2 separate regions of the Homo sapiens genome follow, and region 2 is linked to region 1. Evidence: fine-mapped expression QTL. A gene starts in region 1. The other region holds a variant in brackets. All regions are shown on one strand. Distances are between the middles of the regions.

Region 1 (2,909 bases):
CTCAGTGAAGTAACTCAGGAATGGAAAACCAAACATCGTATGTCCTCACTCGTGAGAGGTAGCTAAGCTATGAGGATGCAAATGCATAAGAAGGATACAATGGACTTTGGGGACTGGGACTCAGGGGGAAAGTGCAGGAAGGGCGTGAAGGATAAAAGACTACAAATTGGGTTCAAGGCATACCGCCCAGGTGACGGGTGCACCAAAATCTCACAAATCACCACTAAAGAACTTACTCATGTAACCAAACACCACCACCTATGGAAATAAAAATTTAAAAACCTATGGAAATAAAAAAATTAAAAATAAATAAAAAAATAAACATAAGTTCCAATTTCAGGCCATCTCTTTGTGAATGCATATGACTGTACACTTTCAGAAAAAGGTATGTCACATCTTGAATGCTTTGCTGCTTAGAAATTTCTTCTGCCAGATGCCCTAAATCATCTCTCTCAAGCTCAAAGTTCCACAGATCTCTAGGGTAGGGCCAAAATGTCACCAATCTCTTTGCTAAAGCATAGCAAGAGTGACCTTTACTCCAGCTTCCAATAAGTTCCTCATCTCCAACTGAGAGCACCTCAGCCTGAACTAAAAAAAAAAGGGGGGGGGGTTATCTAGACAGTGTTTCTTAAATTCCAATAGAGTTTGTCATGCATTTTTTATTATGTATTCCTGATTTTGATAGTTTAATCTGCCTGCAAAATGAACGTCAAAATATTTGTGAGGTTTTTTTTGGTTGTTGTTGTTTGTTTCTTTTTTTTGAGACAGGGTCTCACTCTCTCATCAGTGCAACATGTGATCCCGGCTCACTGCAGCCGCACATTCCCCGGCTCAAGCAATCCGCCCACCTCAGCCTCCTGAGTAGCTGGGACTACAGGCGCACACCATCACACCTGGCTAACTTTTGTATTTTTTGTAGAGATGGAGTCTCCCTATATTGCCCAGGCTGGTCTCAAACTCCTAGCCTCAAGCCATCCGCCCGCCTCGGCCTCCCAAGTGCTGGAATTACAGGCGTGGGCCACCGCACCCAGCCTTATTTGTATTCTTTATGTCCAAGTGTACAATTCATTTCCGTATTAGAAACGATCCATGCACAATCTCACGAAAACATGTTATCTACTGAAGGAATCTGAATTCTTCCATTTATCTATCTAATCACTTACTGATTGAATGATTCAGTTCTTCCAAAAAACGTATCCTTAGGTTTTTATCAAACTACCGTCTGTTCCGATTCTGGGGGCCTGTATATTAAAATCTCCCACTACACGAGTATATCTCATTATCTCTGCATTTCTATTAGTGTCCCCTTTTCTTCAGTTGCCGCCTTGTTCAGTGCACGGGTCAACTCTGAAAAAAAGGGGAACAGAAGGGTCTCTGGCCTCAGGGCTAGTGGGACCAGGTCTGGGGCTGAACCACAGAGTCGCCCCGGCCTCCCGCCATCTAGAGAGGCTACGCTGCCCCAGATAGAACGAGCGGCGGGCCGGAATTCGGGGCGGGACTTCCGGGGGTCAGCCGGCGTTGGCTGAGACGTCTTCGTGCCACGGTGCTGCCTCCTTTCCAAGCGCGACCCGTTGAGGTTAGTTCCGCGAAGCTCCACGCCTGGGACCCTGCGTCTGGTTGTCCCTGATGCCCCCGTGGTTGGGGGGCCCAGGGGCCTCTCAGGGCTCAGACGGGGCGGGCAGCGAGCTGGGGACCCCGGGCGGGGGCGGAGCCGCGCGGGGGGTTGTGGGAGCGCGGGGGGGGCGGGGCGGGGGCAGCTCGGCCTGGGCTGGAGGTCAGAGCCTCTGGGGGCTGCCTCCGGTAGGGGGTCTCCGGGGAGACCCCGGGGTAAGGTCGCCGCGAGGGGCCGAGCCAGGACTCCGCCCACAGGCTGGTGGCGTTCCCGCCTGTCGGTGCCACCATTCGAGCTCGGGCGGAGCGACGGGGTGAAGGGGTGGCCTGCCCTTCCACACCTGTGGGATATCTCATCAGGTGGGACGAGAGACTGAGAAAAGAAATAAGACAAAGTGTAGAGAAACAACAGTGGGCCCAGGAGACCGGCACTCGGCACACTAAGGACCTGCACCGGCACCGGTCTCTGAGTTCTCTTAGTTTTTATTGATTATTATTTTCATTATCTCAGCAAGAGGAATGCAGTAGGAGAGCAGGGTGATAATAGGGAGAAGGTCAGCAAAAAAAAGCATGTGAGCAAAAGAATCTGTGCCATAATTAAGTTTAAGGGGAGGTACTATGCCTGGATGGGCACGTAGGCCAGATTTGTTTCTCTCCACCCAAACATCTCAGTGGAGTAAAGAATAACAAGGCAGCATTGCTGCCAACATGTCTCACCTCTCACCATAGGGCAGTTTTTCTCCTGTCTCAGAATTGAACAAATGTACAATCGGGTTTTATACCGAGACATTCAGTTCCCAGGGGCAGGCAGGAGAGAGTGGCCTTCCTCTATCTCAACTGCAAGAGGCTTTTCTCTTTTACCAATCCACCTCAACACAGACCCTTTACGGGCGTTGGGCTGGGGGACGGTCAGGTCTTTCTCATCCCATGAGGCCATATTTCAGACTATCACATGGGGACAAATCTTGGACAATACCCGGCTTTCCAAGGCAGAAGTCCCTGTGGCTTATCGCAGAGCATTGTGCCCCTGGTTTATTGAGACTGGAGAATGGCGATGACTTTTACCAAGCATCTGCTTGTAAACATTTTGTTAACAAGGCACATCCTGCACAGCCCTAGATCCCTTAAACCTTGATTCCATACAACACATGTTTTTGTGAGCTCAAAGTTGTGGCAAAGTGGCTGGGGCAAAGTTACAAATTAACAGCATCTCAGCAAAGCAATTGTTCAAGGTACAGGTCAAAATGGAATTTCTTATGTCTTCCTTTTCTACACAGACACAGTAACAGTCTGATCTT
Region 2 (2,909 bases), 100 kb before region 1:
CATGGGTCATGTGTCCACTGGACAGGGGGCCCTTCCCTGCCTGGCAGCAGAGGCAGAGAGAGAGAGAAGAGAGAGAGACAGCTTATGCCATTATTTCTGCATATCAGACATTTAGTACTTTCACTAATTTGCTCCTGCTATCTAAAAGGCAGAGCCAGGTATACAGGATGGAACATGAAAGCGGACTAGGAGCGTGACCACTGAAGCACAGCATCACAGGGAGACAGGCCTCTGGATAACTGCGGGCGGGCCTGACTGATGTCAGGCCCTCCACAAGAGGTGGAGGAGTAGTCTTCTCTAAACTCCCCCGGGGAAAGGGAGGCTCCTTTTCCCAGTCTGCTAAGTAGTGGGTGTTTTTCCTTGACACTGATGCTACTGCTAGACCATGGTCCACTTTGCAACAGGCATCTTCCCAGACACTGGTGTTACTGCTAGACCAAGCCCTCTGGTGGCCCTGTCCGGGCATAAGAGAAGGCTCACACTCTTGTCTTCTGGCCACTTCGCACTATGTCCCCTCGGCTCCTATCTCTGTATGGCCTGGTTTTTCCTAGGTTATGATTGTAGAGTGAGGATTATTATAATATTGGAATAAAGAGTAATTGCTATAAACTAATGATTAATGATACTCACATATAATCATGTCTATGATCTAGATCTAGTATAACTCTTCTTATTTTATATATTTTATTATACTGGAACAGCTCGTGCCCTCAGTCTCTTTCCTCGGCACCTGGGTGGCTTGCCACCCACATAGGCAGTCATGCCATTCACTGAAAAGCAGAAGCCAAAGGAAAACCGGAGCCTAATCAAGTGTTTTAAACACATCAGGTTTGAAATGCCTATGAAGCACCCAAGTGGAAATGCTGAGTAGGCAGCTGGGCTCCAGGTATCAATCTAGTCTGGGAACTGAGTTTGGAAGATACCAGCAAACATCAAGCCACCAATGAGGATTAGGTCACCTGGAGATTCCCAATTCCATGGAACAGAGGGCCTGAGACTGAATGGCCAACATTTAGACAAGAAGTCTGCCAAGGCTCAATCCAGGTCTCAGGCCAGAACTGTTAGCGCAAGAAGCTCCTTGCTCCTAAGAACAGAGCCTGGCCTGGTAGGTGCCATGCTGGTTCCCTGAGGATGATACCTGCTCAGGAATGAAGGCAACATGCACAAAGGTACCAGGTGAGGGACTGGACCCAGGGATACCACACCCCTGCATCTTCTGTACTTCCTCTAACATAGGTGGTCAGCATACTCTTTCACTCCTTATCCAATTTTATCAAAAATAGAGATTAGGGCAATATGACATAACAGCATTAAGCACTAAACCATTTGACAGGGATTCCTTTCAAAAGTGAAAACCAGTGTACGATTATACAGCTTCTCCACTAATCTTTGTTACCAACAGCCACTTAATCTAATCCTAAAGACTGAGTACAATATTCCTTCTACAATACTTTGAACACTCACTTCAATTTATTGCATATTTTCTAAATGCACCTCTCTCTCTCTTCTGAAAGAGAGAACATTTCA[T/G]CAGAAAACGAACGGGGTCTTTTGCCTATCTGATGGTCTCACACCTTCACAACAGCTACAAATCCTTGGACCAGCCAGGGACAGACCAACTCCAGGGTTCTCTGACAACAGAAGTCCTGGAAAGGCTCTGCACTCAAAACAAACCCCTACACCACCCCAAGGGAGGGGGATTGTTTCAGGTTCGGGGAGACGCTAAAAGAAATTGAACCTAAACTCTTCATCAGGCATGTCCAGAGTGGCTTTGGCTCTCCATATAGAGCGAGGCCTGCAGACCCTTTGGCTCTTCTTTCTGGTGGCTCCATCTACAGGTTGCACCTGGGCTGAATAAGCAGCTGTCGGGGAGAGAAGCAGCGTATGTCAGAACTGAATAATAACAATTAACATTACCTGTACAGTTATGTTTGCCCATACAATTCTAACCACCTTGCATAAATTAACTGATTAATTCCTCAAATTTGTAAGGTTGATATTACTATCATCCCCCACTTAGAGAGGTTCAGTAGTTTGCAAAAGGTGTTAGTACTACTATGTGGTAGATCCAGGATTTGAACCTAGCTGATCTGGCCCCAGGAATTGCACTCAAACTGTTATGGGATATGGCTTCATTGCTAGTAGAGAAAGCCAAGACACAAAGACATGAGGCAGCTTTCCCCAACCCAGGAGCAGGACCAACATAGGACCATGCTCTTTCCCACTCCTCCCAGGGCCTCCCCGCTGCTTCCCAGGTTCAGTCCTAGGAAGAGGAAAGAGAGGTCCACGCTTTCTGTTTCCCTGCTCCCTCAGGCTTCCCTGAGCCCATCTCCTTCCCCCACCAGGCTTGTTGCTCTGGGCCTTCTTCCTTTCACCCCCTAGACACTTCCTCCTTAAGTTAGGCCTTCCTGAATCAACCAGTGGCTAGCTCCTCACCAGCTCTGAGAGCCCGCAGGGCCTCACGCCATTCGGCTTCCATCTGAGCCCTATAGTCTCCAAACAAGGAGTGCATCAGCTGCCTCTTCCGGGGCAAGGGCGTTCTTTTGCTGCGCAGGGTTCGGATTGCTCCAATAGCCTGCTCTTCTGCGAATAAAAATAAAGGACTAGTGAACACCTCTATTACTGACCTCCTACCACCCCGCCGCAAAGCCAACAACTCCATACTCTGCCAGCACCTGCAGGCCAGGCAGTGCCACTGTTCACATCCCCCAGCTCTACAGAAGGGTCCCTTACTCTGTTTCGGGGTGGGTTTCTGCCTCTTGAGGCCCAGCTCCAGTTGCTCCACACACCAAGCCAATTCCTGGGCCAACTGTTGTGCCTGTGATGGATTTGGGGAAGTGGCTGTGAGAGGGCACTGGAAAACCATAGCCGCCGGCCCCATCCCATGCCCCTCCCCGCCTTAACTCCGCGGA

What was found. PIP is the estimated chance that this variant, and not a neighbour inherited with it, causes the effect.
Region 2: its variant is fine-mapped to the expression of ZNF16 in blood mononuclear cells (TOPMed, PIP above 0.99).

The regions. Positions count from the first base shown.
Region 1 is chr8:144,949,464-144,952,372 of GRCh38, reverse strand. It overlaps ZNF16 (zinc finger protein 16), which reads left to right and starts at 1,493. Exons shown (of 3, transcript NM_006958.3): 1 at 1,493-1,576. RefSeq lists an enhancer at 1,364-1,433 and a silencer at 1,674-1,983.
Region 2 is chr8:145,052,968-145,055,876 of GRCh38, reverse strand. It overlaps C8orf33 (chromosome 8 open reading frame 33), which reads right to left. Exons shown (of 5, transcript NM_023080.3): 3 at 2,731-2,815; 4 at 2,434-2,580; 5 at 1-1,859. The coding sequence ends at 1,720. Among named protein-coding and RNA genes, the nearest start is that of C8orf33, 2.0 kb to the right of the region's middle. RefSeq lists an enhancer at 2,036-2,836. The variant T/G (reference allele first, on the strand shown) is at 1,528.